3 linked regions of the Homo sapiens genome follow. The protein of the gene in region 1 interacts with the protein of each later gene in a pairwise test. Each region holds a gene or a part of one and is shown on either strand. Other genes may lie near its edges.

The links.
Region 2: the proteins of JRK (region 1) and FAM161A interact in binary tests that used the Homo sapiens proteins (3 or more experiments, as listed by UniProt).
Region 3: the proteins of JRK (region 1) and ZNF343 interact in binary tests that used the Homo sapiens proteins (3 or more experiments, as listed by UniProt).

The regions. Positions count from the first base shown.
Region 1 is NC_000008.11:142,659,842-142,663,494, reverse strand, and holds part of JRK (jerky protein homolog), read left to right. Parts: 3' UTR 1-3,653. UniProt on the Homo sapiens protein: May bind DNA.
Region 2 is NC_000002.12:61,827,157-61,830,165, reverse strand, and holds part of FAM161A (protein FAM161A), read left to right. Parts: intron 1-2,907; coding exon 2,908-3,009. UniProt on the Homo sapiens protein: Involved in ciliogenesis.
Region 3 is NC_000020.11:2,481,187-2,484,938, reverse strand, and holds the end of ZNF343 (zinc finger protein 343), read left to right. Parts: intron 1-282; coding exon 283-1,778; 3' UTR 1,779-3,122; downstream 3,123-3,752. UniProt on the Homo sapiens protein: May be involved in transcriptional regulation.

The sequences.
Region 1 (3,653 bases):
CTTGATCAGACATTCAGAGATTAGTCTTAGGTTTGCACGTAAGTCACTGAAAACAGTAAAACAGGCTGCTTAGATTTCTAGCAGTATGTGTGCTCTTATCCCCAGCTGTTAGCACGTTAGTAATACTTTTGGGGAGGAGTTGTCTGTCCTGGTCAGTTTTCACAGAGGCGGTTGTAAGAGGATGTGGTTATTTTCTCCATGTCTGTAGTTGCTTTGCGGCATCTCCATTTCACGGGCAACACTCACTGCCTGCAGCTGAGATTCCAGAACGCCCTGTGTCCACAGTGATTAGCCTCGTCTTTCAGCGAGCATAAAATAGGTGCATTGTCCTTTTCTTTTCTTGAGGCAGGGTCTCACTCTGTTGACCAGGCTGGAGTGAAGTGGTGTGATCCCAGCTCACTGCAGCCTCGACCTCCCTGGCTTGAGTGATCCTCCCGCCCCAGCCTCCTGAGTAGCTGGGACTAGAGGCACGCACCACCGCGCCTTTTTATTTTTTTTGTAGAGACAGGGTCTCACTGTGTTGCCCAGGCTGGTCTTGAACTCTTGGCCTCAAGCGATCCTCCTTCCTCATCCTTCTAAAGTGCTGGGATTACAGGTGTGAGCCACAGCACTCGGCCTAAATAGGTTTTTCTTGCTATGTTATTTTCAGTGCTTTGCCCTTGAATTCTTTTCCTCTCTTAAATTCATATCATTTGGCCGAGTCAGCACGTAGTTTGCATTCCAGCGTCTGCTGTTGATTCCACTGAAACCTCTGTTCTCATGAAGGAGAGGATTTGGCTCGCTGTGGTTTCTCGTACTTTCACATCTCTGTAGATACAGGGGCAAAAGTCATTGCTGACAGAGCCCTATCTATGTCCTGGAAGTGTGTGTTTCTTGCTTTGAATGCATGTGTGAAGATTATAAAAGCCAAATAGTTTTTAAAGATCTCGGTGCTGAACGACAGTCCCAGTTCCCATTTGTGTCCCATTGTCTTTGTGGTGTCACCCGCACTGTTTGCTTCATTGTCTGGGGAACTTCTGCACATCATGTACTTTGTGCCATTTCTGGGCTCACGTGTCACTCCTAATAGAGCCTCTTAACCAAGACTGCTGGATTGCAGCTGCTTGAGGCAACACAGGAGGTTAGAACATGTCCCGAGGGCTCTGAAACAGTAGGACATCCTGGGTGGGTGGAGCTGGGGAGGGCATGGGCAGGCCAGCTGGCCGAGCTCCTGGCTGGCTCTCCTGAGTCCTCTGGACATGGCTTGTCCCTGTCAGACTGTAGCTCTTCAGGACCTGAGCTCTTCCCGTTCTTGATCTGCTCTTGTGCTGACTGTGCTGGGCTGATGGGTAGGCGCTTGTCCCCAGTGAGTGGCTGTGTCCTCAGGGTGCCCCTCTTCCAGACCAACTGCAGCAAGGCCTGGAGCCTGACTCTAGGTGCAGCCCTTGTGGCTGGAATCCCTTGTGCCACCCAGGGGACTCGGGCCCTGCTCCTCCTGCAGCCCCTCCTCACCTGGGCTCGCTGCTGGAGTGAGGTTTTTAGGGAGCCCAGAGCGTACTCATCTCTGAGCTGCTGGGCCCAGCTGCCTGGTGCATACCTCTTGCCTCGGTCCTGTCCCCCAGAACGCTTTATGGAGACTGCCGTGTCCTCCGAGCACTTTGTTTTCACTTCCTGACCCGTCTCAGAAGCTCAAGTGGTTGAATGTTTTAGCCTCAGAATCTTTTTCCCCAAGCCCTCTCAGGTGGAGCCCCGCTGTACCAGACACCACAGCACAGCTCTGTGAGGCTGTGTCTCTTCACTCTGTTTCTGGGGCTGCTGAGGCCCCTGGGAAGCCCTGGAGCTTGCCAGAGCAGAGCGAGAAAGTCTCTGGTCCTGTTTAAATGCCTCCGCGTTTTATCTGTGAGCACCAGGCTGGAGCCACTCCCTGTCTTCTCACAGTGCCCCTGCAAGTTGCAGCCTCAGTTTTCCAGTGGCTCGTGGGGTAGCAGGTGCTGCGTCATATGGTTTGGGACCTCTGTGGCTGCTTCCAGCCTGCTAATAGAACCTCTTTCCACCACTGCCTTCATCTTTGGGGTGGCACCCCTGAGTGCTCAGGCCTGAGGGCGCTCCTGTGTCCTCACTCGGGACAGGCAGCCTCCACTCTGGGAGCTCCCATCCCTCGGGATGCCCAGGAGAGGCCATACTTTCAGGGTGGCATGGTGAATTCAGGGGTTAGGATGGGTAGGTGGTCTTTCAGCCCCTTCTACGTTGGGGTTGGTTTACAGAACACCTGTCCTGCCTGTGCCAGCCTGGCCTTCTGCGAGCACCCCAGGCACGCTGTCCTGGAAGTTGTCTGTCTCCTGCATAGGAGGGTCTAGAGCAGACCTTGCCCTGGGCCTGTCTGTGCGTGACTTCCATATGCTTCATTCGTGCTCAGCCATGGCTGAGCATGCGATGGAGAGCACCTGGACTGCCCCTGACGTCGCAGGCCACTGTTCTTATCCAGTGGGCCAAGTGATTGATTGCTAGTGGTGGAGTTGATTGGAAGAAAGGAAGTCGCAGCCCCTGCCCACGGCTTCCCCAGCTCGCTGGGGTTGGAGGACTGTCATCAGTTGTCCCCAGTTAAAGTCCATTTGGAGGAGGTTCAGGGTCCCAGTGGCTGGATGTGCTTGTGGAGGGACACGGTTTGAGGCAGGGGTTTGCAGAAGGTGTAGACTGCATCCATTCTTGGGAGGCTGTGGCACAGGGCAGCGACAACTTGGGACAAATCAAGACCCGTCCACACTGCACCTCAGGGACCTCACCTCACGCCCCACATAAATGTGCTTATTGGGGATCCGGGTGTGGTGGCTTCTGCCTGAAATCCCAGTACTCTGGAAGGCCACGGCAGGAGGATCACTTTAGTTCAGGAGTTTGAAACCAGCCTGGGCAACATAGGGAGACCCCATCTCTACAGAAAGTAAAAGAAAATGAGCCAGGTGTGGTGGCATGTGCCTGTAACCCCAGCTACTCAGGAGGCCGAGGCGGGAGGATCCCCAAGCCCAGGAGTTTGAGGCTGCAGTGAGTTATGGCCTCTGCACTCCAGCCTGGGTGACAGAGTGAGAGACCTAATCTCTAAAAACAAAAAATAACAAAATGTGCTTTGGGGTCAGGTGTGGAGATCAGGGTCGGGGAGGTCATGAGGTAGGTAGGGGTCAGGATGTGGACAGTCATGGGCTGGTGGGTGTGGCAGCCGTGAGGGGTGGGTGGTGGCCTGGGAGGCAGGGCCTGGGCAGGGCTTCTGCACTTCTGCTGCTTACCCAGCCCCCTCTGGGTTCGAGGACTCTCCTTGACAAGGGCTGAGCTCTCGGGCACTGCGTTGGACTCAGCTGCCTACTGGGAGGCTGGGGAGAATGGACCTGTGAGACCTTGTTTGTCCTCTTCCCTGCCCAGCTCTTGTAGACCCCAGGCCTGGCTGTCCGCAGGGCCAGGAGCTGCAGCCATGGCAGCCACCAGCCTCCCACATGAGCCCCAGCTCCCAGCCCCACACGCCCACTCCTTTGCCCATGTGGTGTCAGCTCTGGCCTCTGCTTCTACACATGGACCCTCAGACCTTGCACATCTGTTGTTTCCCTTGCAGGGCAGTGATGATGACATGAAATGAGGTGGGGTCACTCCTGTTTAGGGATGAGACTGGGGCCCAGGGAGGGGCAGGT
Region 2 (3,009 bases), on another chromosome or scaffold:
TCCCCTACTAAAATGTTAACCCTGGGTAGACAATTAATAAGCCTTTATAACAGGGACAATCATCCATTCTCACCAATTCCATTTATTCTCATTTTCAATGAATGATATCAAGGGGTCTTCTCATTAACTTCTCAAAAAGTATAAACAGAGTTACCATGGCAGTGAATCGCCATTGCTTTTTTTTTTTAGTACATTTTTTGCTGCAGTCTATTTTGCTGGAACTATTGCTGCTAATTAACAGCTGGTTTTTAATAAATTTGCTTGCAGCTATTTGCTTTGCCCATTTATAGGAGTTAATTGTGGTCTCGCTGCTGCTGAGTGATTCCCTAACACAATATGCCTGTGATTCTTTACAGAATAAACTATGTTGTCCTGTTTCTTGGAAATCACAGGATTAATTAACTGAGAAGATGTTAAATTGAATTTTAAACCAAAGTCAGATGAAGGCTTACTGGCACAAATTTTGACTAATGTCTTTTTAATGTCTTATATATTTAATTTGCTGAAGTCAGAATATACTGTTGGTAATGCATTCAGAGCTAGGTTTGGGGTTTCTTTATTCTTCTCTGCAGTCTTTAGGGTATAGTTCTTATTTCTCATTTTGCCCTTCCTTTCAGCTCCCCAAGACTTGTCTTTTGATATTCACAGACTCTGGATGGGTTTTTACTTACTTTTCTAAAAAATATTATTGTTATTCACAGTGAGTGCGTTTTAGCAGCAGTGTTTCTTTTTCAGTTTTCCAGAGTATCAGGAAATGCCCTGGTGATAGTTTTATCTATTGTAATCAGTCCTTGCTATTTCAGGTTCTCCTGTGTAACACTAGACTCCATGGCCCCTCATTATACTAGATTTGGCAAATATCTGACAACTACGTTGCTCAAGTCAGGCTTTAGGTCACCTTCAAACTCTTGACGACCACTACCACTTAGAGAAAGTAGCATGATGTAATATAAAAGACCTAGGAAATGGTCAAGAGACTTGGTTCTACCACTCACTAGCCTTGTGACCTTAGTCAATTTCACCTTTGAGGCGGGGGCCGGGGGAGACTTGGTTTCTTTATTAAATATGGGGGTTAGACTGGGTACTCCTCCACACCCTTCCCAGTATGAATGCCATTGGTACATTGGAACTGGGCCATTCCTAGTATTAGGAATGCTTGCTTTACTTGGAGGTCTTAGCTTTAGTTGGAGGTCCAGAGGGCAATTCTTGGCCCTCTAACAGTTCAGATCCACTCATGGGAGCTAAAATGGGCTAAAGTGGAGGCACTAGTGTGAACCCAGTCACTATGTGGCTCCATAAAGCCTGCCATCTCTGGAGCTGTGATGAGAGGGTCATCACAATTCCAACAGATCTTAAAGCCGGGAAGTGACATTCTACAGATTTGAACCCAGTTCTAAATTCATATTCTTTTTGTTATATCCCTTGCTTCCTCCACAGAGTAAAGATTACAACACTGGTGCTTTTATCATCTTTAATGGATTGGGGATATGGCTTATAAAGAGTAAAAATTACAGTAGATACATAAAATAAAAGAAATTGGCTGGGTGCCATGGCTCATGCCTGTAATCCCAGCACTTTGGGAGGCCAAGGCCGGTGGATCACTTAAACCCAGGAATTCAAGGCCATCCTGGACAACATAGTGACGCCCCGTCCTACAAAAAATACAAAAATTAGCTGGGCATGGTGGCACGCGCCTATGGTCCCAGCTACTCCAGAGGCTGAGGTGGGAGGATCGCTTGAGCCCAGCAGGTTGAGGCTGCAGTGAGTTGTGTTTGCACCACTGCACTCCAGCCTGGGTGACAGAGCAAGACCCTTTTTCAAAAAAAAAAGGAAAAAGAATCCTCTGACAACAATTATTGCATGAAATCTTTTTTTTTTTTTCAGATATCTTTATACAGTCATAAAAGTATATAAAACCTAGGTACAATATAAAAAATAATTATAGATCAATCTAATGTGGCCACCACCCATGTTAACAAATAGACCATTGCCAGCACCCCAAAAACCCTATGTGCCATTGCAGATCACAGCCCTCTACCTCTCCCCAAGAGGTAACCACCATTCTAACTTTCAGGATAAGTACTTCCTTGTTTTTCTTTGCAATTTTACAGTGTGTGTACCTATCCTCAAACAATATAGTTGTTTTGCCCATTTCTGAACTTTATATAGATCATACAATATGTACTTGTCAGTGCTTTGCTTCTTTTGCTCAGTATTATATTTGTGAGATCTATCCATGTTGTGGCATGTAACTGTAGTTCATTCATTTTCCTTGCTTTGTTTCACTCCATTATAGGAATAGACCACAATTTATTTATCCATTCTGCTACTAATAGATATTTGGGTGATTTCCCATTTGGGGTTATTGAAGGACAGTACTATCCTGAACATTCTTGAACATGTCCTCCCTTGGGACTCATATGTGGGAGCTTCTCTGGTTATATTCCTAGGAGTGTAATTGTTGGTCATAGGGTATGCAGATTTTCAAACAACTGTGACTGCTGAACTTAATTATCACCAGTACTTTTAATCCATATTTTTTTTTTTTTTTTTTTTGAGACAGAGTCTTGTTCTGTCACCCAGGCTGGAGTACAGTGGCGCGATCTCGGCTCACTGCAAGCTCCGCCTCCCAGGTTCACGCCATTCTCCTGCCTCAGCCTCCCGAGTAGCTGGGACTACAGGCGGCCACCACCACGCCCGGCTAATTTTTTGTATTTTTAGTAGAGACGGGGTTTCACCGTGTTAGCCAGGATGGTCTTGATCTCCTGACCTCGTGATCCACCCGTCTCGGCCTCCCAAAGCACTGGGATTACAGGCGTGAGCCACCGCGCCTGGCCTAATCTATACATTTTTGATGAAAATTTAAAGTCTTCTGTTCTCGTCTAAAAAGGTTTGTCTTTCCTATAGAAAAATGCAAGAATGGCAGCAGAAAAGCATTATTCTAATACCCTAAAAGCACTAGGAATATCTGATGAGTTTGTTTCAAAGAAAGGCCAAAGTGGAAAAGTA
Region 3 (3,752 bases), on another chromosome or scaffold:
TCTATGGCTTAGGAGAAGGCTAACTATGATTGAAGCTGTTTACAGAGCAGAATACTCACTTGAGAGGTTCCTGGTTTCTCAAGATATTTTTGTTATGGATTTTCTGGATTGCAATAGAAAATGTGATGGAATGTAAAGGAATCATTGTTCAGAAGCAAATTGTGTTATACTTATATTATCAATTATAGGCATGGCAGTAAAACATTCTCTGTCCTAAGACAAGGCAGAACAACTCAGCAGCCCTACTTATGGCTACTCTAACAGAAAACTTTCATTCTTCAGCAGAACCAAAGCCAGAAATCTACACTTGTTCCTCCTGCCTTCTGGCCTTCTCCTGTCAGCAGTTCCTCAGTCAACATGTACTTCAGATCTTCCTGGGCTTATGTGCAGAAAATCACTTCCATCCAGGGAATTCTAGCCCAGGGCATTGGAAACAGCAGGGGCAGCAGTATTCCCATGTAAGCTGTTGGTTTGAAAATGCAGAAGGTCAGGAGAGAGGAGGTGGCTCCAAACCCTGGTCTGCAAGGACAGAGGAGAGAGAAACCTCAAGGGCATTCCCCAGCCCACTCCAAAGACAGTCAGCAAGTCCTAGAAAAGGCAACATGGTGGTAGAAACAGAGCCCAGCTCAGCCCAAAGACCAAACCCTGTGCAGCTAGACAAAGGCTTGAAGGAATTAGAAACCTTGAGATTTGGAGCAATCAACTGTAGAGAGTATGAACCGGACCATAACCTGGAATCAAACTTTATTACAAACCCGAGGACCCTCTTAGGGAAGAAGCCCTACATTTGCAGTGATTGTGGGCGAAGCTTTAAAGATAGATCAACCCTCATCAGACACCATCGTATACACTCGATGGAGAAGCCTTATGTGTGCAGTGAGTGCGGGCGAGGTTTTAGCCAGAAGTCCAACCTCAGCAGACACCAGAGAACACATTCAGAAGAGAAGCCTTATTTGTGCAGGGAGTGTGGGCAAAGCTTTAGAAGTAAGTCCATCCTCAATAGACATCAGTGGACTCACTCAGAGGAGAAGCCCTATGTTTGCAGCGAGTGTGGGCGAGGCTTTAGCGAGAAGTCATCCTTCATCAGACACCAGAGGACACACTCCGGTGAGAAACCCTATGTGTGCCTGGAGTGTGGACGAAGCTTTTGTGATAAGTCAACCCTCAGAAAACACCAGAGGATACACTCAGGGGAGAAGCCTTATGTTTGCAGGGAGTGTGGGCGAGGCTTTAGCCAGAACTCAGATCTCATCAAACACCAGAGGACACACTTGGATGAGAAGCCTTATGTTTGCAGGGAGTGTGGGCGAGGCTTTTGTGACAAGTCAACCCTCATCATACACGAGCGGACGCACTCTGGAGAGAAGCCTTATGTGTGTGGTGAGTGTGGCCGAGGCTTTAGTCGGAAATCACTCCTCCTTGTCCACCAGAGGACACACTCAGGGGAGAAGCATTATGTCTGCAGGGAGTGTAGGCGAGGTTTTAGCCAGAAGTCAAATCTCATCAGACACCAGAGGACGCACTCAAATGAGAAGCCTTATATTTGCAGGGAATGTGGGCGAGGCTTTTGTGACAAGTCAACCCTCATTGTACATGAGAGGACACACTCAGGAGAGAAGCCTTACGTGTGCAGTGAGTGTGGCCGAGGCTTTAGCCGGAAATCACTCCTCCTTGTCCACCAGAGGACACACTCAGGGGAGAAGCATTATGTTTGTAGGGAGTGTGGGCGAGGCTTTAGTCATAAGTCAAATCTCATCAGACACCAGAGGACACACTGACGGGAGAAACCTGTGTATGCAGGGGTCATGAACAAGACCTGAGTGACCAGTCAAGCCTCATGTTACCCCAGAGAGACACATGGGGAGTAGACCCTGTGTACACAGATTGTGAGTGAAGTTCCAGAGATGTGTCAGCCCTTATCAGGCATGGGAGGGACACGTTCAGGAGAGGAGCCTTATGAGTATAGAGTACGGGCAACTGTAGCCATCAGTCAGCCTTGAGCATGCACAAAAGGACACACTTAGGAGAGAAGTTTATGTGTAGGGACTGTGGGAAGGCTTTAGCAATAATCAACATTTACCAGACATCCAATGACAGCCTCAGGGGAAAGCACCCTTGTCTGGGGAGTGTTGGGGAGCATCAGTAAAAGAATGGACACTCAGGCACAGAGTGGCCCTCAGGAAGGAGGTCTTTGTTTGTAGGATGTATGGGCAAAGCTTTTGTGATCACACACCACAGGGAGAATCTGCATGTGGGGACACTGTGGAGCTCTGCCCAGATGACCTTTTCAGGGGTAACACCCCAGCTGCTTGAGAGAACAGTGTTGCTGCTGGCAGAGATGCATTCCAGAGATGCACTCCGCTCTGGAACTCACTCTCAGCCACAGGGAGCTGCATGCACCACAGGGGCAATGCACCTTTGCAGGGGTACCTTCTGGCCCCAACCCTTGACTCAACGGGGACAACTCCAGAAGGTCATTCCAGATCCAGAGATCCCCATCGAACTGAAGGATCACTGGGTTGCAGACACATTGCAGGTCAGCTTCTTCCTCTGCCCAGTCCTGCCCTCACTCCCCAGTGAATCCTCAATTTTCTGTCTCGTTGTCTGTCCAGATAATTGATTCTAAGACATGTTAGGTATATAAGGAGTGTAGATAAGGCTTCAGCCATGAGTCACCCCGCAGTAAGCCCCAGAGTATATTGAATAGAAATTCTGCATGTGTGGGGAGAATGGACAAGGACTTAGGAAAAAGTCCTCATCAAAGAACAGCTTTTTTGGGACAAGCTTTACATGGGTGGGGAGGGAAAATGTGAAACACATTAGCAATAAGTTAAACCTCATCTTGTACTAAAGGAGGACACACTCAGGGAGAAGACCTCTGTGGGCAGGGCTTGTGGGTGGAGCTTCATCCCGATGTCACTCCTCAACTGACTTAGGAGGACAGTCTTGCTACCCCAAGTCACTACCTCACTCACCTCTGAGGGATTTTCAGGAAATGTCTTGACTCCCCCATGTACTCTGTATGTGAGCGAAGATGGCAGTAACTGTTAAATAAGCATTCTTTTCTACTTCTTGGAATCAGATGAAATAAAAAAGCAGGCTTTATTTAAGTAATCAAAAAATGATCAACTTGTTTTATTTTCATATACCAGTTCTTTCCCGTGTTTTCTTATCCCTTTGTTTTAGTTCAAAATTTCTTCAATAAGTTCAGGCTGTGTAGCTTGGCCACTCATCTGACTGAAAGGGTGCAAGGAATTCAAATTCACAGTCAGGGTTTCCTGCATAAATTCAACCCTTGAGAATCAATCTAATAGATTTTTTTGGAGAATTTGATCCTTTTCATGTGGAGGAGTGATTAGGTTCTAGAGACAGGCCAGTTGCAGGGAGGGGATTTTCCAGGTCTCCAGGGCTGGGCTGCCTCTTCTCCAGACTGATCACTTTCTTCAGCTTCTGTGAAAGCTTCCTTCCCTAGGTATTCTCTCTCTCTCTTTGTGTGTTTCTCTTTCTCTCCCCATCTTGCCTTCTCTCTTTTTCTTTCTTTCTGCAGGTGTCTTTGCTGAATACTTCTCTATTCCACTGAATTTTTGCAGTCCTTAATGATCTGCTCATGTCCTCCAGTTCCAGGGACCCTTTAACCACATCCCCTCTGCAGCCTTCCAGATTGCAGAGGCAGGTCCTTTAACCATGCCCAAACTGTTCTCTAGTCATGAGTCATTGCTTTGGGCCTCTTAGCTACTCCCCATGTCAGATCA